Homo sapiens: one gene and its partners. The protein of the gene in region 1 purifies or fractionates together with the protein of each later gene. This does not show direct contact. Each region holds a gene or a part of one and is shown in the gene's direction. Other genes may lie near its edges.

Evidence for each region.
Region 2: the proteins of INAVA (region 1) and PPP2R3B purify together in Homo sapiens (affinity purification with mass spectrometry; 2 studies listed by BioGRID and IntAct, with this or other methods). This does not show direct contact.
Region 3: the proteins of INAVA (region 1) and PPP2R3A purify together in Homo sapiens (co-immunoprecipitation; one large-scale study listed by IntAct). This does not show direct contact.
Region 4: the proteins of INAVA (region 1) and CRTAP purify together in Homo sapiens (affinity purification with mass spectrometry; 2 studies listed by BioGRID and IntAct, with this or other methods). This does not show direct contact.
Region 5: the proteins of INAVA (region 1) and SMARCA1 purify together in Homo sapiens (affinity purification with mass spectrometry; one large-scale study listed by BioGRID and IntAct). This does not show direct contact.
Region 6: the proteins of INAVA (region 1) and HHIPL1 purify together in Homo sapiens (co-immunoprecipitation; one large-scale study listed by IntAct). This does not show direct contact.
Region 7: the proteins of INAVA (region 1) and ACTR10 purify together in Homo sapiens (affinity purification with mass spectrometry; 2 studies listed by BioGRID and IntAct, with this or other methods). This does not show direct contact.

What each region holds. Positions count from the first base shown.
Region 1 is NC_000001.11:200,908,400-200,911,899, forward strand, and holds part of INAVA (innate immunity activator protein), read left to right. Parts: intron 1-330; coding exon 331-541; intron 542-824; coding exon 825-998; intron 999-3,053; coding exon 3,054-3,500. UniProt on the Homo sapiens protein: Expressed in peripheral macrophages and intestinal myeloid-derived cells, is required for optimal PRR (pattern recognition receptor)-induced signaling, cytokine secretion, and bacterial clearance.
Region 2 is NC_000023.11:338,408-341,907, reverse strand, and holds part of PPP2R3B (serine/threonine-protein phosphatase 2A regulatory subunit B'' subunit beta), read left to right. Parts: coding exon 1-25; intron 26-511; coding exon 512-601; intron 602-967; coding exon 968-1,143; intron 1,144-3,011; coding exon 3,012-3,130; intron 3,131-3,197; coding exon 3,198-3,304; intron 3,305-3,500. UniProt on the Homo sapiens protein: The B regulatory subunit might modulate substrate selectivity and catalytic activity, and might also direct the localization of the catalytic enzyme to a particular subcellular compartment.
Region 3 is NC_000003.12:136,105,228-136,108,727, forward strand, and holds part of PPP2R3A (serine/threonine-protein phosphatase 2A regulatory subunit B'' subunit alpha), read left to right. Parts: intron 1-988; coding exon 989-1,095; intron 1,096-3,500. UniProt on the Homo sapiens protein: The B regulatory subunit might modulate substrate selectivity and catalytic activity, and might also direct the localization of the catalytic enzyme to a particular subcellular compartment.
Region 4 is NC_000003.12:33,120,514-33,124,013, forward strand, and holds part of CRTAP (cartilage-associated protein isoform 1 precursor), read left to right. Parts: intron 1-3,500. UniProt on the Homo sapiens protein: Necessary for efficient 3-hydroxylation of fibrillar collagen prolyl residues.
Region 5 is NC_000023.11:129,464,491-129,467,990, reverse strand, and holds part of SMARCA1 (SWI/SNF-related matrix-associated actin-dependent regulator of chromatin subfamily A member 1), read left to right. Parts: intron 1-2,028; coding exon 2,029-2,147; intron 2,148-2,258; coding exon 2,259-2,471; intron 2,472-3,500.
Region 6 is NC_000014.9:99,648,129-99,651,628, forward strand, and holds part of HHIPL1 (HHIP-like protein 1 isoform a precursor), read left to right. Parts: intron 1-3,500.
Region 7 is NC_000014.9:58,217,149-58,220,648, forward strand, and holds part of ACTR10 (actin-related protein 10), read left to right. Parts: intron 1-2,545; coding exon 2,546-2,581; intron 2,582-3,500. UniProt on the Homo sapiens protein: Part of the dynactin complex that activates the molecular motor dynein for ultra-processive transport along microtubules.

The sequences.
Region 1 (3,500 bases):
GCAGGAACAAGAAAAATAGGTAAACAAAAGATAACTGCAGACATGGTACCAGGAACAAAGGTTAGAAAGTGGAGCACTGTAAGCCCAAGAGAGTCAATCTGGGAGGCTTCTTGAAGGAGGAAGGCATAAAATAGGGCTGTGTGGGAAGAAGTAAGTCCCAAAGGAGAAGAAAACATGTTTGAGCATCTAGGGCTGGAGCCATGGCCTGCAGCAGCTGCACAAGCCAGCATGGGAGGGAGAGCGGCGAGGCATGGGCTGTGGTTTGTGGAGGTTCTTGTTGGGCCGGTTCCCCCAGCCTCTGGCCTTACCAGGTTTCTTTTACTCCTGCAGAGGAATCCCAAGTGCCAAAACCTCCTCCAGAGTCTCCAGCCCCACCTTCTCGGCCTCTCCCACCCCAAACCCTTGAGGGTCTGCAGCCAACAGGACCTGAGGCTGGGAGCCCAGAACGGGCTCCAGTCCAGAACAGCCCCTGGAAGGAAACCAGCCTGGACCACCCCTATGAGAAGCCCAGGAAGTCTTCTGAGCCCTGGAGCGAGTCCAGGTCAGGATCAGGGGGAAGGGAGAAGGGCAGGGCAGGGCAGGGAGTCGGTGGGAGCTATGCTGGGGATGGCTATAGGCTGGGCAGATGGAAAAGTGGAAAGGTGGAGGAGAGAGCTCCTGCAGTCGTGGGATGGAGGTGTGAGCCTTGATAGTTCCCCAAGGGTGCTGGCAGTTTGCCCTACTAACTTTGGGAGCCCCTTCCACTGCATCCCCATTCTTCTGCACCTCTTGAGCCCCTGAATGGAGGCATTCCTGCCACTGACCTGTCTCTAATCCTTTTGCAGCAGCCCAGCCACCACACCACAGGATGGGCCCAGTGCCTCCAGCCTGTGGCTTCTGGAGCCTGCCTCCTACCACGTGGTTCCCATCCGTGGTGTTCCTGGCCAGTGGCAGGGCCGCACCAGTGCCCCAGCCACCCCTGAGATACAGGGGAGGAGGGGCCAGTCGCAGTCTCTGAGGTAAGAGACAGCTTCCCCAGAGAGATGGGGGACCCACTTAGAGCTTATCGTTGGAGGGTGGGAGCTCCCAGGACACAGGTGGGACAACCCTGGGTGACACATGGCTAGTGCCTTGACTTCTCTTAGGATCTCTTCTTGGGGCGCCTCTTGACAGAGAATGCACTGCACCCCACTAAGCCAAAGGCCATCCATGAAGCAAGTGGTTTTCTTCCAAAGACTCTAGTTTTGTCTTTTTGCATAACTTGATTCAAATTTTCTACCCTTGCCATGTTTCCTTGTGCTGGTAGATTATTATTGGTCACTGACAATAGGCAACTCACTTTTTCAATTGATGCACAGTTGATTCTCATTATCTGTGGTAGTTATGTTCTATAAAGTAAAATTGACGCAAATCCTGAATTAGCAAATACTGAACCCTTGCCCCTGGGGAAATATAGGGTTAGGTTCCCGTGAGCCTTTGGTCACGACATTTTGCATCAACTGATTAATATATAACCTTATGTTATGTGAGTTTCTGCTTAAGGACACCTTACTTAATATGGGTTGTTGATTCATTAACTCATGGCCAACAGCACTGTAACTCATACCCAGATGAAGCTTACCTAGCACACATATTTTCTCCACAAGGCACACCACAGCCTTTTCCCAGTATGCCTTAGGGAGGAACAGTAGACAGCACTTTGGCACTGTATTTGGGGGCATTTTAAACAGCAGAATCACTAATCAAAGCAAAAACACACACAGTACATAAATATGCCACAAAAAGGACACTGTGCACTTACAGCATGAGAACTGAAACATGAGGGCAGAACATGGCCTCGTTTAACCTCAGAACTTAAAGAGACTCAAATTTGTCACTTTTCTGCAGTGTCCAAGAATGACCATGAAAGCACTGTGTATATTGCTTTGGGGATTAAAAATAAAGTTTAGCAACTAGGAAAATTACAAATACTGAATCTGCAAATAATGAGAATTGACTGTATGTTACTTTCTAAGTCATCTGCTACTTGGTAATAGTTTAAATGGCTAAGCGTTGACAGGCAGTATTGGCCATACCATATGGGGACTGGGGCACCATGAAAGCACTGCTGAATTCTCCATCAGCTTAAATTGGCTGGTCAGGCAGCACTGAACTGGGGGCAGCTTGGGACAACTGCTCTCAAGTAAAGCAATGGATTTTGTTTAATTTTTAAATTTTTTTTGAGGCAGAGTCTTGCTCTGTCATCCAGCCTAGAGTATAGTGGCGCAATCTTTGCTCACTGCAACCTCCGCCTCTCAGGTTCAAGCGATTCTCCTGCCTCAGCCTCCTGAGTAGCTAGGATTACAGGCGTCCGCCACCACACAGCAATAGATTTTATATTTTACATGCTACGAGGGCCATTTTACAAACCATGCCTTTGTGCAAATTAGGAAAAGGCAGACACAGCCCCATACCTGGGTGCATTAGTAGAGTGAAGTGAAGGCTGGATTTCAGCCCCTGCCGGTCTTGGGCTGCAGGTAACTGCTCTGGGTACCACATGACAGCTTTTACACGTTCAAGTAAGGTACCTGGCAGTGCCTACCGAACAGATGCTGTGGATGATCTGCCACTGGACACGGTGTACCTAAGCTGAAAGTACTTAATGTAGTACTTTAAAAAAAGTAGTTAATGTAGTACTTTAAAAAAAGTAGTTAATGTAGTACTTTAAAAAAAGTACTTAATGTAGTACTTTAAAAAAGTACTTAATGTAGTACTTTAAAAAAAGTACTTAATGTAGTACTTTAAAAAAAGTACTTAATGTGCTACTTGATGTAGCACACTTTACACGAATCACAAGCTTGTGAATGCAGCAGGAACACTTTTGCACACAGGGAAGGAATGCGTTGGCACCCACGCAGCCCGGCAGAGGGTTTGTTGGTTTGCTTTGGGAGACTTGACCTAAGACCCTTGCACGAGGGCCATGCTTGGGCCTTGAGGTAGAGCAGGACTCACCTGTTTTAACTCCACCTCCCGCCCCAACCCCAGTGTGGAGTTTCTGCCCCCCACACTCAGAATGCCTCTCTTTCCCTCTTCAGGGTGGATTCCTTCCGGGCGGGTCCTGAGGGCCGAGGTCGCAGCGCCTTTCCCCGCCGCCGCCCCACTCACTACACGGTGACAGTGCCAGATTCCTGCTTTCCCGCGACCAAGCCCCCGCTGCCCCACGCCGCCTGCCACTCCTGCTCAGAAGACAGTGGCTCTGACGTCTCCAGCATCTCCCACCCCACTTCGCCGGGCAGCAGCAGCCCCGACATCTCCTTTCTGCAGCCTCTCTCCCCTCCCAAGACCCATCGTCACCGCGGGGCCTGGGTCCCAGCCGGCAGCAGAGAGCTGGTCGCCCACCACCCCAAGCTACTGCTGCCGCCTGGCTATTTCCCGGCGGGGCGGTACGTGGTGGTGGCTGAGAGCCCCCTGCCGCCTGGCGAGTGGGAGCTGCGCCGCGCAGCCCCGGGCCCTGCTTACGAGGAGGAGGGCACTCCCCTGCG
Region 2 (3,500 bases), on another chromosome or scaffold:
GGATCTTCTCAGGAGCAGTCACACGGTACGTACGGCTCAGGCGCCTGACGGCAGCCATTGCCCCTGCGAGGACCCCGGTCCCTCTCCTCATCGTTGCCTGACGTGAGCTTTTTGTGCCCCGACAGCGAGTGGTTGTCACCCCAGGCCCTGGCGAGGGGGGCACGTGTCTCTGTCACGTGAATCCCTAGTGGGGGGGGGTGGCACAAGACTGTCACGCGAAGTCTGAGGAAGGGGGTGGCCCAGGCCCCAGGTCGGGGGTTCTTGTCGGGCGCTGGGCCTGAGTGAGCAGTAACGAAGGTGCACTCCTGACCCTGCCTGGATCTGGGGAAAACCCTCTGGCCACGGGGCCTCCACCTCCTCCCCGGAGAGGCAGGAGGAGGGGCAGGAGGGGGGCAGGAGGAGGGCCGGGCCCGGGGGGCTCCCCTCACCGAGGCGCGTGGACAGGGGCTCCGTTCCTGTGAAGCTCTCCCTGACATGCATCTTCGTCTCTCCATCCTGGCTTTCGATCTAGAGGCAGAAAAGTGCAGAAGGAAGGGAAGATCAGCTATGCCGACTTTGTCTGGTTTTTGATCTCTGAGGAAGACAAAAAAACACCGACCAGGTGGGTTCCTGCTGCGGCATGCGTTTGTCCCAGTGGAGGGGCCGGGAGCCGCCCATGTGACATGTGTCCCCAGGCGGATGCCTGCACGCCTGGTGGGGGCTGCACGGCACAGGGGGACATGTGCACGCCCGGTGGGGGCTGCACGGCACAGGGGGACATGTGCACGCCTGGTGGGGGCTGCACGGCACAGGGGGACGCGTGCGCGCCCGGTGGGGGCGGCAGGGGGCAGGGGATGCCTGCACGCCCGGTGGGGGCTGCAAGGCACAGCGGGGACGCGTGCACCCCCGGTGGGGGCTGCCTCAGGGGCTGCAGGTCACGGGCTGGGAGGGCCCAGGGCAGGGGCTGACAGAGCTCGCCGTGCCGCAGCATCGAGTACTGGTTCCGCTGCATGGACCTGGACGGGGACGGCGCCCTGTCCATGTTCGAGCTCGAGTACTTCTACGAGGAGCAGTGCCGAAGGCTGGACAGCATGGCCATCGAGGCCCTGCCCTTCCAGGACTGCCTCTGCCAGATGCTGGACCTGGTCAAGCCGAGGACTGAAGGTGATGCCCCGTGAGGGCATGGCCCAGGGTGAGGGGACGGACGGGCGAGAGGACGGCCCAGGGTGAGGGGACGGACGGGCGAGAGGACGGCCCAGGGAGAGGGGACGGATGACAGCCCAGGGAGAGGGGACGGACGGGAGGGAGGACGGCCCAGGGAGAGGGGACGGACGGGAGGGAGGACGGCCCAGGGTGAGGGGACGGACGGGAGGGGGGACGGCCCAGGGTGAGGGGACGGACGGGAGGGGGGACGGCCCAGGGTGAGGGGACGGACGGGAGGGGGGACGGCCCAGGGTGAGGGGACAGACGGGAGGGGGGACGGACCAGGGTGAGGGGACGTCCCTGTGAGGCGCTGTCCTACTGAGTTTGTGAGGAGGGCCAGCACCACAGGTGCCTAGTCTCACAGTGCAAGAACCTCCTATTCGGGGCGTCGACACCCCCCGAGGGGTGACCTAGAGAACCTAGGGCCGGAGCTCACCGGGGACGTTGGCACTGGGCTGAGGGAGCAGTTGCCACGTTCGTGCTGATGCCGCACAAGGCGGTCCTCCCCTCACCCCCCCCCCCCCCGTCTCCTCCCCTCTCACCCCGCCCCCCCCGTCTCCTCCCTTCTCACCCCCCCCGGCTCCTCCCCCCCTCTCGCCCCCCCCATCTCCTCCCCTCTCACCCCCCCCATCTCCTCCCCTCTCACCCCCCCATCTCCTCCCCTCTCACCCCCCCCATCTCCTCCCCTCTCACCCCCCCCATCTCCTCCCCTCTCACCCCCCCCATCTCCTCCCCTCTCACCCCCCCGGCTCCTCCCCTCTCACCCCCCCGGCTCCTCCCCTCTCACCCCCCCGGCTCCTCCCCTCTCACCCCCCCCAGCTCCTCCCCTCTCACCCCCCCCCGGCTCCTCCCCTCTCACCCCCCCCCGGCTCCTCCCCTCTCACCCCCCCCCGGCTCCTCCCCTCTCACCCCCTCCGGCTCCTCCCTTCTCACCCCCCCCGGCTCCTCCCCTCTCACCCCCCCCGGCTCCTCCCCTCTCACCCCCCCCGGCTCCTCCCCTCTCACCCCCCCCCCGGCTCCTCCCCTCTCACCCCCCCCCGGCTCCTCCCCTCTCACCCCCCCCCGGCTCCTCCCCTCTCACCCCCCCGGCTCCTCCCCTCTCACCCCCCCGGCTCCTCCCCTCTCATCCCCCCCCGGCTCCTCCCCTCTCACCCCCCCCGGCTCCTCCCCTCTCACCCCCCCCCGGCTCCTCCCCTCTCACCCCCCCCGGCTCCTCCCCTCTCACCCCCCCGGCTCCTCCCCTCTCACCCCCCCCCGGCTCCTCCCCTCACCCCTGTTCCCCCCACACCATCTCCCCAGCTCCTCCCACCCACCCCCGTGCCCTCTAAGGCAAAGGGGAGCCCCACCGTCCACGCCGCCTGGCTTCCTTCTGCATCTCAGAATCCAGCTCTGGGACTTTCACTTTGGAAATGGCTCTGAGGCCCGGGCACCGCCCTGCAGCCCTGCCCCCCCCGGCCATGGGGCGCCTCCTGCTGCTCAGTGTCCCCGGGACACCCTCTGGCCTCTGCCTGCACGGGGAGCTCCGTTCTCTGTAATTTCAGATCCAGCAGCGCCCCTGCTGGCCGCGCCTCCCTGCGCTAGTCCCAGTCCACGCATCCTTGGGGCACCGGTGGCCCCTAGTCGCCTCCGCATCACGGCCTCCCACGCCTCAGTCCCCACCCAGAACCAGGACACTCGCGTGTCCGCCTTTCACGTCAAACACGTGGCGTGAGAGCCCGGAGCTTCGTGCCGCGTCCTTAAGCACGTGTGACAGGACGCGCGCACCCCACACCCAGGCCCCGAAGGTGAGACCGGGCTCACGCGCCTTGGACGCACTCCCCTCCCCGCAGGGAAGATCACGCTGCAGGACCTGAAGCGCTGCAAGCTGGCTAACGTCTTCTTCGACACCTTCTTCAACATCGAGAAGTACCTCGACCACGAGCAGAAAGAGCAGATCTCCCTGCTCAGGGTGAGTGCGGCGGGCACGCGGGCCGGGCCGCGCCACGCCGTGTACGTAACCCGTGTGCTTCCTCCAGGACGGTGACAGCGGCGGCCCCGAGCTCTCGGACTGGGAGAAGTACGCGGCCGAGGAGTACGACATCCTGGTGGCCGAGGAGACTGCGGGAGAGCCCTGGGAGGACGGGTGAGTGGGGAGGACGGGTGAGTGGGGGGACGGGTCAGTGGGAGGACGGGTGAGTGGGGAGGACGGGTGAGTGGGAGGACGGGTGTGTGTGCAGCCGGGGGATGCGGGGTCAGTCAGGTGGGGTGCGCGGACACAGAGGGGCGGGGTGAGACCTGACACGGGGCCGGTGAGGTAAGGACAGCCGATGACAGGGCCG
Region 3 (3,500 bases), on another chromosome or scaffold:
TACATTTCAGGCGGGCCTGTGGCAAACCACAAGTCACTCCAGGTGGCTGCTGTGCAAAGTGCCAGAGGAGAGGGGACCAGAGAAATGTCTCTGATTACAAGGCTAAAGAGTAGACTTACCAGGTGCTATGGCTTGTGCTTGTAATCCCAGCTACTTAGGAAGCTAAGACGGGAGGATCACTTGAGGCCAGGGGTTCAAGACCAGCCTGGGCAACATAGTGAGCCCCTGTGTCTACAAAAAAATTTTAAAATTAGCAGGGCATGGTGGTATGCCTGCATTCTCAACTACTTAGTAGGTGGAATGCCTGTAGTCTCAGCTACTCAGTAGGCTGAGGCAGGAGAATCACTTGAGCCCAGATTCTGAGGTTAGCAGTAAGCTATTGGTGCACCACTGCACTCCAGACTAGGCAACAGAGTGAGACCCTATCTCTTTTAAAAAAAAGAGTTGGAATCAGCCAGCCACGGTGGCTCACACCTGTAATCCCAGCACTTTGGGACGCTGAGGCGGGCAGATCACCTGAGGTCAGGAGTTCGAGACCAGCCTGGCCAACATGGCGAAACCCTGTCTCTACAAAATACAAAAATTAGCTGGACGTGGTGGTACTTGCCTGTAGTCCCAGCTACTTGGGAGGCTGAGGCAGGAGAATTGCTTGAACCCAGGAGGCAGAGGCTGCAGTGAGCCGAGATCGTGCCACTATACTCCAGCCTGGGTGACAGAGTGAGATTCTATCTCAAAAAGAAAAAAAAAGAAAAAAGAAAAAAATGGAATCTATACCTAAAAAACCTGGCTGCTAAACAGTTATAATTTTGCCATTTGAGGTGTAGAAAATTACCTTAGGAGTTTTACCTTAGCACCTCTTTTAAACCTGTTGAAATGAAACATTTTTCAGGTAGGATTTTTTCAGCAGTATACATTTGTGTGATGATCTATCTCCAATTCTTTGTCTTTGATTTTTTTTATTTCTCGTGGCTGTCTTCTTTCCAATCAGGATGTTGAGAACGATGGGCCTGAGCCCTCAGACTGGGACCGGTTTGCCGCTGAGGAGTATGAGACGCTTGTTGCAGAGGAATCTGCCCAAGCACAATTCCAGGAAGGGTGAGTAAGTTTCCCTATGTCTTATAGAATTTTTAACAGGAATGCGCATGTCCAGAGTATTAAAACCCCCTTACAAAATCCTTTTCTGTTTTTTCCATTTTTGAATAGCATAAAAATGTGATTTAGCCAACTTTAGTTAAATGATTATTTTTTCCAGCAATCTTCACTCATTTCCTGACAGAGTCTTCTCATGTCCATTTCCTTTAATGAGTCTCATCTTTCACTGGAAACCGAGATCACTGAACAATCAAACTACTGTTTTAGTGATATTGATAAACCCTGTACATAAAGGAGGAGGCTAAAAGAACTAAAGCTCTGGCCGGGCACGGTGGCTCACGCCTGTAATCTCAGCACTTTGGGAGGCCGAGGCGGGTGGATAACCAGAGGTCGGGAGTTTGAAACCAGCCTGACCAACATGGAGAAACCCTGTCTCCACTAAAAATACAAAAAAATTAGCCGGGTATGGTGGTGCATGCCTGTAATCCCAGCTACTTGGAAGGCTGAGGCAGGAGAATCGGCTTTTACCCGGGAGGCAGAGGTTGCAGTGAGCCGAGATCATGCCATTGCACTCCAGCTTGGGCAACAAGAGCAAAACTCCGTCTCCAAAAAAAAAAAAAAAAAAAAAAAAAAAACTAAAGCTCCTTCAATAATAATAAAGATGATCATGTTTAGAACAAATCTTTATTATACATGGTTTTGTGCAGGAAGTAACTTCTACATGTATTTCTACTAGTCAGGGCATAATTCCATAAAGGGACCATGTTAAGAAATTTAATTATCCAAGAATTTGACTCCTTGGATCACTTCAGCAACTTTATAATTTGCTGGTTTTTTCCATCATCTTCTAGTAACTCCTTTTGTAATTCTTCTAATTCTTCCTTAGTCATAGCTTCTGTAAAGGCCTCAATTAATCTTTCTCATTAATGTAGTGTACTTTTTGAACAGGCACTATTCATATAATATTCAAAGAAACAAAAGAAATAGTAAAAAGTTTCCTACTACCCACTTCTCCTCCCCAGAAGCAACAAGTGTCATCATGTTCTTGCTTACTCTTCCAAAGAGCCTCTCTCTCCACCTATCTATGTATATTTAGAAAGATACATGAATTCTTTTTTTTTTTTTTTTTTTTTTTTGAGACAGTCTCAAATGTGGTCTCTGATGTGGTCCATTCAGGTCAGCCTCCTGAGGCATAGAGATAGAGGAAGAGCAGGTCTAGAGGGATAAACAGAAACTATCCAGCCCCATAGATAAAGTCAAATAGTCCTCAATATAGATTGTACCATTTTATACCTCTACCATTCATTAAATATTATCTTTTTTGAGGGTGCTGAACAAGCCATCAGCAAAGAGCTTTCTTTCACTGAGAGATTTCTTTAACCTGCTTAGCCACAAAACTAGGATTTCATTTTTATGGCAGTGACCTGGAAACCCTTAAAATCATTCATCGTGCACTCAGTATCTTAAGCCTGACTGCATCAGAATATAGGAAAATGGATTCACAAGCATGATTTAAAGGTTTTTTTGGCATTGAGCTTCCATACTAGGAATTAGGGTTAGCATACCAATCTTAAGAAGCAACAATGCTGCAGTTAAGAATATGTGTGGATTGGCCAGGCGCAGTCACTCATGGCTGTAATCCCAGCACTTTGGGAGGCTGAGGCAAACAGATCACTTGAGCCCAGGAGTTCGAGACCAGCCTGGGCAATGTGGCGAAACCCCATCTCTACAAAAAATACAAAAGTTAGCCAGGTGTGATGGTGTGTGCCTGTAGTCCCAGCTACTCAGGAGGCTGAGGTGGGAGGATCACTTGAGTATGGGAGGCAGAGGCTGCAGTGAGCTGAGATTATGCCATTGCACTCCAGCCTGGCCTGCAGAGCTAGCTAGACCCTGACACACACACACACAGCAAGTGTGGATGTTTATAATAGTGAAAATTTGGAGGCAATCTAGGTATCTAATGGGAAGATTAATAAAATTATACTACATGTACCCAGTACAGTTCCATTAAGCATTAAAATCATTTTGTGGATGTGTACTTCTGGACTTTAATTAGGAAAAACGGGATGAGGAAGAAGACTATGAAAGATCAAGTAAAATGTAATAGAAAAGAAACAAAAAAAGTATCCAAAAGAAAATTAGGTATAGGTAAGGAAAGCAAATGGGATCTTATTTATGTGTTTTAGACAAAAGAATATATGAAATAGTAAAGTATATTAAAAGACAATAGGAAAGCTTTTTTGAAATAAAAGAAAACCTGAATAGGAAAGGTCAGAAATCACGCCATATCCAGGAAATACTGATAATGAATAGTGATGGACCCCAGATTTGCATTGTGAATTTACTAGAACTCAAGGATGAATAAAGGTTTATCATTGGGTTTTTTTTTTCCAGTTTTAAAAATTCAA
Region 4 (3,500 bases), on another chromosome or scaffold:
GGCAGTTAGTGGCAACCTGGACTGTTAAAGAAATGTCTCTCCATAAGCAGCTGCTGATAGCTAAGGACCTCTAGTGATTTTTGGTGACATTTGCTGAATATTATGACAATAGAAATGATTGACTTTTAGCACAAAGTGATCCATTTAATAATGATATTTTGTATGCCGTGATGATTTTAAAAGCCATGTTCCCTTTAAATGCTACATTTTAGAAATATGGTCATTTAATTATTTAGTTTTAAGAGGGTAGATTAAAGACATATCTTGGAAATCATCTAAAATGACCAGGAACACAAGAAATAGAAACATAAATCTCCAGTTTTGATGAAATGAGAAGGCATATATTTTTATACACACTTGCACACAAACGCACCCTAAATATATTAAGGTAGAAAATGAAGACGAGTTAGGAAGGCTGATGTGACAGAGTAGAGGACACTTAAATCTGCGCATCTACGAAGAAGAGTTTTGATGAGAATTAGTCGTAAGAACAACAATAAGAAAGAACGATCTCGCCCTTTTGAGCACTCACTATTGTCAAGGTCTTCTGGAACTCAGGCACTGGGGGCCTGGGTTTCAAGCAAGGGCAGGGCATTGTTGAAAATGGGAATTTGGCTGGGCACAGTGGCTCATGCCTGTAATCCCAGCACTTTGGGAGGCCGAGGCGGATGGATCACCTGAGGTCAGGAGTTTGAGACCAGCCTGGCCAATATGGTGAAACCCCGTCTCTACTAAAAATACAAAAATTAGCTGGGCGTGGTGACTCAGCATGTCTGTAAACCCAGCTACTCGAGAGGCTGAGGCAGGAGAATCACTTCATCCCGGGAGACAGAGGTTGCAATGAGCTGAGATTGCGCCACTGCACTCCAGCCTGGGCGACAGAGCGAGACTCTGTCTCAAAAAAAATGAAAGAAAATGGGGATATGTGGAAAATATCCACTAGAAGTTATAGTTCCCAAGGCCTGACCACAGGGTTTTCTGTAGAGTGATCAGATCTCAGGCTCACTTTTTGACTGCTAGGGAAAATGTATGTGTGGAAGTCTCTTTTTGGGGGTATCTGTCAGTTTTCCAGGGAAGACTTCACCAGCCTTCTGCAGGGCTGGTGGGGTGCGCATACTCCTCTGCTGGTGTCTGAGAACCAGTGTGGGGAGAGGGACAGGGTCACCCAGGTGAGTAGGAATACTTCACCTGCTTCCTGATTTTAGCCTCATGCCTCCACTTGGCCTCTGCTACGTCTGGTCCCTGACTCCTCAGCCTTTATGGGTAAAGTCTCTAGAATAAACTGCCACTCTCTGGTGAAGAGTGGCTTTGGGAGATATGATCTCTTGGGTGGGTGGGTAGGTGCTGGGAGCGGACCCAGGACCCCAACAGCCTGTTCAAACTTGCAGCCCTGCTTCTAGCTCCATGCCTTACCCCAGCCTCCCGTGGTCCCTCATGCCTGCGCATGCCAATGGGACATATAGCTTGCTTCCCCTCTGGCCCCTCCTTTGTGACTATTTCACTTCCTGCCTTTCCAAAAGTTGTTGAAATCTCATCTGCTGCTTGCTCCCTTCCCATTCTCCCATAAAAGCAATTTATGCCTTTCATAGTCTTCACTGTTGTTTTCATAGGGTTTGGGGAACGAAGCCGAGTGCGTGTGGTCAGTGCCCTGGGCTTATCTGGAATTCAGCTAGTCCTGTTGGCCCTCACTGGAGCCCTTTTGGGGTGGCTGTGCTGCCCTCCTGTGTGATCAGGGGCCTCCTCTTTCTGCTTGGTCCTTCTTGCTGCTGCTGCTGCCCCGCTGCTTCTGCAGAACCAGCTGTCTGGAGTTGGCTACTTATTGACCCATTCTTCAGGAAAGGCTCCTTCAGTTCTCAGCCTGTCTTATTTCCAGGGCATGTGGCCTGCCCAGGAGGTTTAAGAAAATCCACCCTCGGCCAGGCGCGGTCCTCATGCCTGTAATCCCAGCACTTTGGGAGGCCAAGGTGGGTGGATCACGAGGTCAGGAGTTCAAGACCAGCTGGGGCAAGATGGTGAAACCCTGTCTCTACTAAAAATACAAAAAAATTAGCCAGGCGTGGTGGCAGGCACCTGTAATCCTAGCTACTCGGGAGACTGAGGCAGAGAGAATTGCCTGAACCCAGGAGTTGGAGGTTGCAGTGAGCTGAGATTGCACCACTGCATTCGAGCCTGGGCAACAGAGCAAGACTCTGTCTCAAAAAAAAAAAAAAAAAAAAAAAGAAGAAGAAAATCCACTGTCTTTACCTGAGGCCTTAAGCTTGGTGAAAATTCTAGGTCTAAGGGGTGCCCTCAGATACCACCATTCCAGAGCAGCTGAGAACTCCAAATGGAGGGTCCCATGCTTATTCAGGGCCTGTCCTGGCCTCTGCAAGTTAGCAGGTTTTGTGTGTATCCAGGATCTCTACTTATTTCTTGGAGACCAAGCTACTTCCTTGGTCCTAGTTTATTTCTCTCTCTCTTTTTTTTTTGAGATGAAGTCTCGCCCTGTTGCCCAGGCTGCAGTGCAACGGCACGATCTTGGCTTACTGCAACCTCCACCTCCTGGGTTCAAATGATTCTCCTGCCTCAGCCTCCTGTTATTTCTCTTCTAATCGAGTCTAATCAACAATTAGCAGAAAGTCCTTGAAGTTTCCACTATCTGGCATGTGGTTGCCCTTCCTAGTAACTAGTGCTGATGCATGGTGGCACTTCTGTTTAACTGCATTGTCGGAGGAAGTGGGGTGACAGACACCTGCTGATATGGTTTGGATCTGTGTCTCCACCTAAATCTCATGTCCAGTTGTAATCCCCAGGGTTGGAGGTGGGGCCTGGTGGGAGGTGATTGGATCATGGGAGTGGATCCTTTATTAATGGTTTAGCACCATCCTCTCTGTGCCATTCTCATGATAGTGAGTGAGTTATCATGAGACCTAGTTGTTTAAAAGTGTGTAACACCTCCCCGCTCTCTTCCTTCTTCTCTGGCCATGTGAAGTGCCGGCTCCCTGTTTGCCTTCTGCCGTGATTGTAAGTTTCCTGAGGCCTCCCCAGAAGCAGAAGCTGCTATGCTTCCTGTATAGCCTGCAGAACCATGAACCAATTAAACCTCTTTTATTTATAAATTACCCAGTCTCGGTTTTTTTTTTTTTTTTTTTTTTTTGACAGAGTCTCGCTCTGTCACCCAGGCTGGAGTACAGTGGCACAATCTCAGCTTACTGCCACCTCCGCCTCCTAGGTTCAAGTGATTCTTGTGCCTCAGCCTCGTGAGTAGCTGGGACTACAAGCATGTGACTACACCTGGTAATTTCTATATTTTTAGTACAGATGGGGTTTCCCTATATTGGCCATGCTAGAGGTATTTCTTTATAGCAATGTGAGAACAGACTAATATACCTGCTCTCAAACTTACATTTTTCTTTTCGTTCCATTTTAAAAACCAGTTTTATTGAGGTACTATTTATATACAATATATTTATCAATTTTAAGTGTATAATGCAGTAAGTTTTGACAAATACATCCAGTCC
Region 5 (3,500 bases), on another chromosome or scaffold:
TATATGTAGTACATGGGACTTTTCTAACTTCCAAATAGGTTCAGCTCTTAAACTTATCATTTGAAACAAGATGTTTAGAATCTAGAGCATTTTTTGTCATTGAAACAATGGCAAAGTAGGTTTAAGTTTACAAAGTAGGTTTAAGTTTCTATGATAGCCCCTGCCCCAAATCTATTTAACCCTACCACTGAAATTCTGTTTTTGCAATAGTAGGAAAGAAACATTACAGTACCAATAAATATACTAAAGATTAATAATAGCTAGGAACAGCTTTTAATTTATCTAGCATGCTAGTGCTTGAAGAAATCCAGATTTAATTAGAGAGATTTTTTTTTCTTCTGGAAATCTAAAAGAGTCTTCTGGGGGACTTCAGAGGTCAGTTGTATTGAGTTTTTATTACATATAATATAACATTAAGTATATGAACTTCCTTTTCCTTCATACCAGCATGATATTACTATTACTCTGAACATTTAGCACATAAATTTAGGGCATTTGGAGGCTTAGGGGAAAAAATAGATTGAAGAGAGAAATTTTAGCATCAAGAGTTGAATGAAAAGAATGTAAAAGGGTATGTGCAGAGAGATTTTTAAGAAGAATTTTTTTCAGAAGATAGGCAGGGAGATAACATCGGTGTATGTGAAGTTGCAAGAAAAAAATGTGATTTAAAAAGATGATCCTGTCAGACTTTCTTTCAAATTTGACACCAAGCCAGGTGGCATGACTAGCTCAGGACTATTTAATTGCTGCCTGCCAGGTTGGGGGCCATGTCACAGGGTGAGGAGATTGCAATGAGTTTGTTGTAGTTGGTTACAGTAAGAGAAGAAATGTGTACAATTGACCACCCATGAATATACAGTATCCTGTACATAGCAAGTGTTTAAATATTTGTTGAATGAATATGTGAGTGAATGAGTAAATGAACACAGGTGCTTATAAAAATCAGAGTGCTCACATACCTTTCTTGATAGGCTCTAAAAATGAAAAGCTTGAGGATGTGGAGTATGTCATTAAAAGGCCTTTCATTGAAGTCATGTGACATATTAATACAGCCAGATTATTTGGCTCATCTATAAAATTTGGTTGAGTGACTTGGAATGTTTTTCAGTGTGTATGCAATTAAAATCCCAATGAGGTTTTTTTTTTTTTTTTTATGAGAAAAGGGTATTCCAAGTAAGTTTAAAAACACACTACTGGTCATTGGAAATACCGTAAGATGATTAGTGAGTGATTCCAAAAGCAAATGACAATTTCAAGAGAAATGGCTGCTCCATAGAAAAAAATTTGAACAACCTGTTCATAATAGCTTGGGTTTTTTGTTTATTTGTTTGTTTTTGAGATGGAGTCTCACTTAATCGCCCAGGCTGGAGTGCAGTGGCGCGATCTCGGCTCACTGCAACCTCCACTTTCCGGGTTCAAGCAATTCTCCCGCCTCAGCTTCCCGAGTAGCTGCGATTACAGGCACGCACCACCATGTGCAGCTAATTTTTGTATTTTTAGTAGAGATGAGGTTTCACCATGTTGGCCAGGCTGGTCTCAAACTCCCAACCTCAGGCAATCTGCCCACCTCAGCCTCCCAAAGTGCTGGGATTACAGTGTGAGCCACTGTGCCTGGCCCATAATTGTTTTCGCATGCTAGGAAGCTATATTCACTGTTTATATATTACTCTCTCCTGTGTCACTTTATGTGTTTGGTCCCTTTTCTATCATGTTTGAGTAAAAAGCCTAGCTTAAATCAGTATCTGCATCATCTTTTGAAATCCTAGTCATTTGGGATGGATCGTAAGACTCCGTACTATTTCATGAAGGAAAATTGCTAACCTAAAACCTTGTTTTGAGGTCTTATTTTTAAGTGAAAAGTTAGTAGTATTTAATAATTTAACATATTATATATATAAGATTAATCTGAATCTTAATTTTAAGAAGTACAAGCTCATTGTATTCTTTCCTATTAATTCCTTATTCTACAATTCCTTGGATTTATTTGCTTAAATGATAGGATTTTAAAGAAATAACTCTGTTTTTCAGCTGTATTTTGGGAACGTTGCAATGAATTACAGGACATTGAGAAAATTATGGCTCAAATTGAACGTGGAGAAGCAAGAATTCAACGAAGGATCAGTATCAAGAAAGCCCTGGATGCCAAAGTACTATGTTTTATGTCAAATTATTATTAGATCGTTTTAATTGAAATAGTGGTCAGCTTTGACTTCTTACTGCACATTCAATTAAAAGCACTATTTTGTTTAAATACACAGATTGCAAGATACAAGGCTCCATTTCATCAGTTGCGCATTCAGTATGGAACCAGCAAAGGAAAGAACTATACTGAGGAAGAAGATAGATTCTTGATTTGTATGTTACACAAAATGGGCTTTGATAGAGAAAATGTATATGAAGAATTAAGACAGTGTGTACGAAATGCTCCCCAGTTTAGATTTGACTGGTTTATCAAGTCTAGGACTGCCATGGTATGTATTCCTTTCTTACCGATTTCCTCCAACTTTTTATTTTGAAAAATTTCAGATGCCATATATCCTTCACCTAGATTCTCCAATTAACATTTTGACACATTGGCGCTCTCTCTTTCTCTCTCTCTGTGTGTATGTGTATACATACGTAGCACCTATATATACGTGCAGAATCTATATTTTGTATTAAAAAATACGGGGACATCTATATTCTATATTCTGAAATGCGTATCTATATTTTATAAGTATACTTAACTATATTTATGAACCATTTGAAAATTACAGACAATGTGAGTGTTCATCTCTAAATACTTAAGCATGTATCTCCTAAGAATAATGACATTTTCTTACATAACCACAATCCCACCTGAAAACATTGATTCAGTAATGTCATTTAGTATACAGTCTATGTATAAGCTTTTCCAGTTGCCCCCAAAATGCCCCCTTTATAGCTGTTTTTTTTAAAATTGATGATCCTGCAAGTTTCACACATTACATTTCGTTGTTGGGTCTCTTTAATCTCTTTTAATCCACAACCTTTTGGTTTTCGTGATCATGACTTTTTAAAGGTGTCCAGGCTAGTTGTCTTGTAGAATGTCCCACATTGTGGATTTACCTCATTACTCATTGTAAGATTCAGGTTCAACGTATTTGGCAAGAGTGCTGTGGAAGTGATGTTATGTATTTTTTATTGCATCCCATCAGAAGGCACATTATGTCATGTTGTCACACTGTTGGTGATGCTAAGTTTGGTCACTTGTTAATGTGATGATCTTCAGAGCTCTCCGCTTTAGAGTTATGTTTTCCCCTTTGTAATTAAGCAGGTTATGCTTGAGACTATGCGAATGACTTAAAGATGGACTTTTAATGAAAAGGAGTTGTTGCCTAAGTTGAGTTTTTTATTAGGAAACAGAATATTTAAGTTGAAGAGATATTTTATTTTAGCTTATGTGATTTCCTCCATTACTTTCTAATGTGAATTGTGTTCCTATTCTAGTCCTACTTAGCAGTGGTGTTCATGATGATTTT
Region 6 (3,500 bases), on another chromosome or scaffold:
AAAAATCCCCTTCATCACTTCAGGAGACTGACACACACAGGAAGGTGCCAGAAATTCCTCAAGGAGTGTAGGAACAAGGCCACATACCTCAGGGAAGGCTTCCTGAATGTTGGTTGCATGTTGATAGCTCATTATTTACTGAACAAACACATACATCTTCTCCATTTGTTCCTCCCAACAACTCTATGAGGTTGGAATTCCTTTCCCCTTCCACAGATGAGGACATAGGCACAGAGAGGTTAAGGAGCTTGCCCACGGTTAAGAGCAGTAAGAGGTTAAGGAGCATTCCCCATGGGGAATGTGTGCGCTGGCTCCAAAGCCATTCTCCTAACCGCTTTGCCACACTGCCTCCCTCCTTGAAGCCCCACTGTGTCCCACAGTCCGTGGAGTGGACAGACATGCAAAGAGATAATGAAGTCCTAGCCAAGCTGACTGGCTGGAGCGCCCCTGGCGACGGAGCAGTGACTGCTGTAGAGAACTCACCCTGTAAGCTACAAGATTCAATGGAGTGAGTGTCGTGTCTGAGATATGGACAGAGTGCATTGGGAGCATCCATAAGGGCCAGGGATGGGACAGTCAGAGCCCTGGGAGCATGGAGGACAAGAGGAGACCTTTGAGTAGGCCTTGAGTCATGAATAGCAGTTTGCCAGATGAGGAAGTAGGTGAGAAGCAAATATCCGATGGACAGGACACTGTGCAAAGGCTTGCTCTTTCAAAAAATGAACGGTGGACATAAGAAACCTTCAGGACCCAGGGCCATGAGTCACGAGTGTCAGTGACATGGGGGTGGCAAACTCTGGGCAAGATGGGGGCCCTCCGCCCTGCACTGAATGGCCCGGGCGGCTGAAGCCTGCGATACTGGGCTGGTTTCCTATGGCCTTCCTGCCACCTGCCCCTAAACACACTGAGGCCAAGCTGCGGATCATCCTCTTGCCAGCAGCAATCACTATGTCTTCTTGTCACTTCCTAGCTCTGGACTACCCTGGTCTGGGCACCACATTTACGTCGTGTGTAAGTAAGAGTACATAGGCCACGAGGAAGCATCTGCTGTGTGATTGGGACGCACGGATGCCGAGGTCTTCGGCCTGGCTCCCTGAGGGAACTTTTGCTCCCTCTGTAGTTCTGGATTGGGCTTTGGTGAACGGAGGGCTCTCGTTGCCTTCCAGATGTCTGTTCTGCCCCTCACTGCGTCTCTGGAACCAAGATGGTGCCTGGTACAATCTCTGCTCAGTAAATTCTTGGTGAATGAAATGTTGCTGACTAATCTGGAAAGAACACCAGTCCAGGCATCATGAGGCTTGGGTGTGAGCCCTGGTTTGGCTACTTCTTGGCACGTGGCCTTCTTTAAGTCTCAGTTCCTCATCTATAAAATAGGAGTCAAGCCGTGTACGGTGGCTCATGCCTATAATCCCAGAACTTTGGCGGGCCAAGGCGGGAGGATTGCTTGAGCCCAGGAGTTCAAGACAAGCCTGGGAAGCATAGAGAGACCCTGTCTCTGCAAAAAATAAAAATGAAAATTAGCCGGGTGTGGTAGAGCACGTCTGTGGTTCCAGCTACTCTGGAGGCTGAGGTGGGGAGGATCGTTAGAGCCCAGGAGGTCAAGGCTACAGTGAGCTAGGATTGTGCCACTGCACTCTAGCCTGGATGACAGAGAGAGTCCCTGTCTCAAAAAATAAACAAATAAAATAAAATAGTGACAATGACCCTACCTTGCAGAGATGAAAGAAGGCACGTGTGCACACAGCCCCTCCCTGGTCCACGTGCAGCTGCCGGCTGACCCACAGGTGGTTCCCAGTGAACCATGGGAGGGACAGCACACACGGCGGCCTGAGGCCTGGCCATCTGGCCTGCTCACTGGCAGAGGGGAGCATGTAAGACATGGCACCCTGGTCTGTACCTGGGACAGTAACTGACCAGGACCCCAAGACATTCTGCCAAGTGGCCCTTGGCCAGTCAGGTGAGACCTAGCCTCACAGCAGTAGAGGGGCCAGGAGGACATGCTGTGGTATGACCAAAAGCCACAATCATGTCACAGGAGTGAGTGGGCCCTGGCCTGGGGCTTGAGAACACCCCGGGAGGCAGCCTGCCATCCCCCATCCCCAATCCTCCCCCAAACGTCCCAGAGGCCTCTTGCTGGAACCCAGCCTGGTCCTCCCTGTGAGGGGAGGGAGTGTGTGGCTGTCAGTACCTCCCCACTGCAGAAGGAGCATCCCCCGAAGCTCTGGGGGCCCAGAGCTGACTCAGACCCAGGCTTGGCCTGGTGGACTCACAGGTGGGGGAGGGTGTCAGTCACAGATAGAAAGAATGACCACGCCACAGGCCGGCGGCTCTAACAGGGAGGCCCGCAGACAGCCTGGAGCTGTAGGGGTAGGGTGCAGGGAGGGTGCTGTGGTGTGGGGACACTTAACTGGCGTTGGGGATGGGTAGTTGGGAGCTGGCCAGTAGAGCTGAGCAGACGTGGCTCAAACCCCAGCCCACTGGCATGTGACATGATACTTTGGGCTCCCTTCTGCTGTCTCTGCTTCCACCTCTGTGCAGTGGTAATAAGAACAGGCCTCCCTCCCATGGTTGCCTTGAGGAGGAAATGCAGATTCATGGGCACACTGCCCTGGTGCCTGGTCCACAATTTGCCCCAAACCCCAGGAGCTGCTGTGATTGGTTAGCATGGCTTCCCCCACGGCCATGGCCATGATTTAAGAATAAAGAGAATTCTGCCTGCCAGAGAAGAGCAGGGAAAGGGCATGCCTGCAAAGGGAACAGCCTGTGCTGAGGCTCAGAGGTGTGAAATGGCAGGGAGTATGTATTAGTCTCTTCTCTCATCGCTATAAAGAAATACCTGGCTGGGTGCAGTTGCTCACGCCTGTAATCTCAGCACTATGGGAGGCTGAAGCGGGAAGATGGCTTGAGCTCAGGAGTTCGAGAGCATCCTGGGCAACATGGCAAAACCCCATCTCTACAAAAAATACAAAAATTAGCTAGGCGTGGTGGCTCTCGCCTGTAGTCCCAGCTACTCAGGAGGCTGAGGCAGGAGCATCTCTTGAGCCCAGGAGGCAGACATTGCAGTGAGCTGAGATGGTGCCACTGTATTCCAGCCTTGGTGACAGAGAGAAAGAGAGACCCTGTCTCAAAAAAACTAACGGACAAACACAAAACAAAACAAAACAAAACTGGGTAATTTATAAAGAAAAGAGGTTTAATGGGCTCACAGTTCTGCAGGATGTATAGGAAGGATAGTGGCCTCTGTTTCTGGGGCGTTCTCAGGAAACTTACAATCATGGTGGAAAGTAAAGGGGAGGCGGCATGTCTCATGACGACAGCAGCAGCAAGAGAGAGATGGTGTGGGGGCACACTTTAAAACAACCAAATCTAATGAGAACTCACTCGCTCTACAGTACCAAGGGGAGATGGTACTAAACTAAACCATGCGTGAGAACTCCGCCCCGTGATCCAGTCACCTCCCACCAGGCTCCTCCTCCAACACTGGGGGTTACAATTCTACA
Region 7 (3,500 bases), on another chromosome or scaffold:
GTAGCATCCCAAGATGTTCTTTGTAAAGGTCTTTAAACCCAATAATATTTCCATAAAATTATAAACGATACATTCTTGGATATTCTTTTTCTAGTCAACCTTGTACTGATTCTAACCTTTCCTTTTAATACTCACAATCTGAGTCTGTGATAGCCATGCAGTCCTACAAAATTGTGGAATCAAATCATACAAATATTTGCTGAAGCACCCACTTAGTAGGATCAGAAATGCAAATACGGCTGGGCACGGTGGCTCACGCCTGTAATCCCAGCACTTTGGGACGCCAAGGTGAGTGGGTCACTTGAGGTCAAGAGTTCGAGACCAGCCTGACCAATATGGTGAAACCCTGTTTCTACATAAAAAAAAAAATTAGCTGGGCATGGTGGCTAATCCTGTAATCCCAGCTACTCGGGAGGCTGAGGCAGGAGAATCGCTTGAACCTGGGAGGCGGAGATTGCAGTGAGCCGAGATCGAGCCATTGCACTCCAACCTGGGTGACAGAGGGAGACTCCGTCTCAAAAAAAAAAAAAAAGAAAAAGAAATGCAAACAAATTTAAAATGTCTCTTTTCCAGGTTCTTAGCAAAGATTATATGCAAGTCTGAGATATGCTTGAGTATTCTTAAGTGAATTTTGAATGAGCCTCTTTCATTTAGTGTTTAGAACTTAGTTTAAAAAAGAATGAATATATCATAGTAACTCAAAAAGGCTAACCTAAGTACACTGATTGGAAAAATGTACAGTTTAAATTATATACCAATATGTTATGCTTCTTATTTTCCTAACTGAAATGTAAGCATTTTTTTTAGAGCCAGAGCCAGGGAATGCCTCTTGTTTCTAGTCTTTACTTGCAAAATTTAAATAGTTATAATTATTTGCCCCTTATGATTAAGGAGCTCCTTCCCAAAGCAGCATCTACTCTTAGCTAAATTAAACTCTTTATTTCCAGGCCTGCCTTACATTTGCCTAAAGAAAACAGTTTCTCATATTACCAAAGTTCTTTGACATGTTAAAATTTATATAAATGTTCCAAGAGAGAGCATTGAAGTTGTGGAATGCTGTAGGTTTTAGCACTTATTTTTAAATTGCAGGTTCTTACAGTCAAGTTACATTTCTCTCATCTATTTATAATCAGGATTAAATCTTCTGGCATATCTTTATCCTCTTGATTTTAACACTTAAAGATAGGAAATCTTCAAAAATTTTTTATCATGTACTGGCCCCACAGGTAAAATAAAACTTCGAACATGTTATCTTTAGTATGTCTGTTTATTTATACACCATATATGTACTATTGTTACTATATTATGAAACACAAAAGTAAGCCTTTGGAAAGGATGAGATAATAAAGGTAAAATAATAAATAATTCTAAACTTATACTTACTAAAGATAAAAATCTTTTGCAATATAATTAAATATTAAATATGCTTTTTTTTAAAAATTATGGCTTAACATTTTAATGGTGTGGTTTCTAAGTTTACCTAATTTTAATGGCTCTCAGAACTGAAAGTTATAGTTGACAACAAATGTAGATCCAGGTGGAAGAAGGCCATAATTATGCTTATTAAATAATGATTTATTTTTCAGCTATAGATGTCTATCTTCCCTGATATCAATAATTTATTCTTATAAATCAATGAAAATATTTTTACATATTTTACAATGGGTTAAAAATTATTATTATTATTATTTTTTGAGACGGAGTTTCACTCTTTTTGCCCAGGCTGGAGTGCAATGGCATGATCTTGGCTTACCCCAAACTCCTCCCGAGTTCAAGCGATTCTCCTGCCTCATTCTCCTGAGTAGCTGGGATTACAGGCATGCACCACCACACCCAGCTTTTTGTATTTTTAGTAGAGACGAGGTTTCTCCATGTTGGTCAGGCTGGTCTTGAACTCCCGACCTCAGGTGATCGGCCCACCTTGGCCTTCCATAGCGCTGGGATTACAGGCGTGAGCCACTGCGCCTGGCCCCAAAGTTAAAAATTCTTAGTTTCGAAGACTTTAAGTTAGAAAATTTTGTTTCTGAGACAGATTTTTGGCAACAAAATTTTATAACAATGGTAATATATCCAAACCAAAGGCTCCCTGTATTGCATGAAGGTAGATATACTTGGTATCTTTAGCTGAACTTTGAATGAGCCTCTTTCATTTAGTATTTAGAACCTAATTCAAAAAAGAATGAATAAGTACTTTCTCAGTTGTTTTTTAAATGTCACCTTTACCTTGAAGGACAAGATTAAAAGATTGTGTGTGGTACTTTTTAAAAATATGTTAGCACATTACTGACAACTATTTATTATCACCAGAAAGATAAACTTGAAACTTCAATTTTTTGCTTCAATTTCCATGGTTTGTCTTGGCTTTGAATGATGATATTTCTTCCCTAAAACAAAATTAAATTTTTCTGTTAGACTTTTTGAGAAAATTATAGTAGTTGTATTTTTAAAATTTTTTCTAAATTGAAAAATAGAAATGTGAAGGCAATTTAATAGACTGTTTTTAATTATTAAAGTTTTATAATTCTAAATGAAATATTTGTTTTAGGTTCAGTTCCGGAAGGTGTCTTAGAGGACATTAAAGGTAAACTAAGTTCTCATTTTTGTCCCTTTCATCCTTAAGTGTTACTTTGGAGGGCATATGCTTCTAAACATTTACACAGATAGAAAATATATTCATAATGTAATATCCTAAAAGTATTTAATATATAGGTTATGGGATACTCTAAGTACAAATTCCACTTTTTTTTCACACTTAGGGAAGCTGTGGCATAGTGATGATGTGTTACTGAAGCAGCTTCTCAATTGTATACAGAGTATACAGGGTTACCAGGGAACTAGTATTTTGCAGTGTGAAAGAACAGTTAAATTGCTTAAGAAAGCTACTGGTTTGATGTAGTATAATGTTTTTTACTCTAGTTTTCTTTATACATTTTTCTAAGAACTTCCGGAATTGTGACCAAAGTACTACACAGTACATTGTTTTCACCTAAGTGAGATTTATTGCTTCTACTTTGCTAGGGTGAATTTCTATGATAAAGTTCAAATTGGGTTTTCTGGTATTTTTATTCACTAAAATAAAATACATTTAAAATATAATCTTCAATACTTGGCATGTCATTAATGTTAATAATTTAGGATGTTTAATAGATAGACAGTAATGGATTTTAGAGTTAAATGAGAGCTGGAGATAATCTAATACAGTTGGGGCTGTGAAATGTTATTTGTCCAGTGTCACACAAGTAGGTAGGGTTAGAGCTCAGGCTACAAAATAGATCTTGCTTTCCATTATATTACCTATTATTTTTTATGTGTTTTAATTACCTAAATTCTTTTCAATTGTTATAAAATTTCAATCATTTGTAATGCTTATTACAGTAGTTCAAATAATACAGAAATATCTCAGGTAAAATGGTTTCCTTTCCTCTCTTCCATTTCTATCCTCCGTGATATAACAGTTGTTGACCATGTGGAGTGTTTTCTTTTCATATGACCTCCAACCT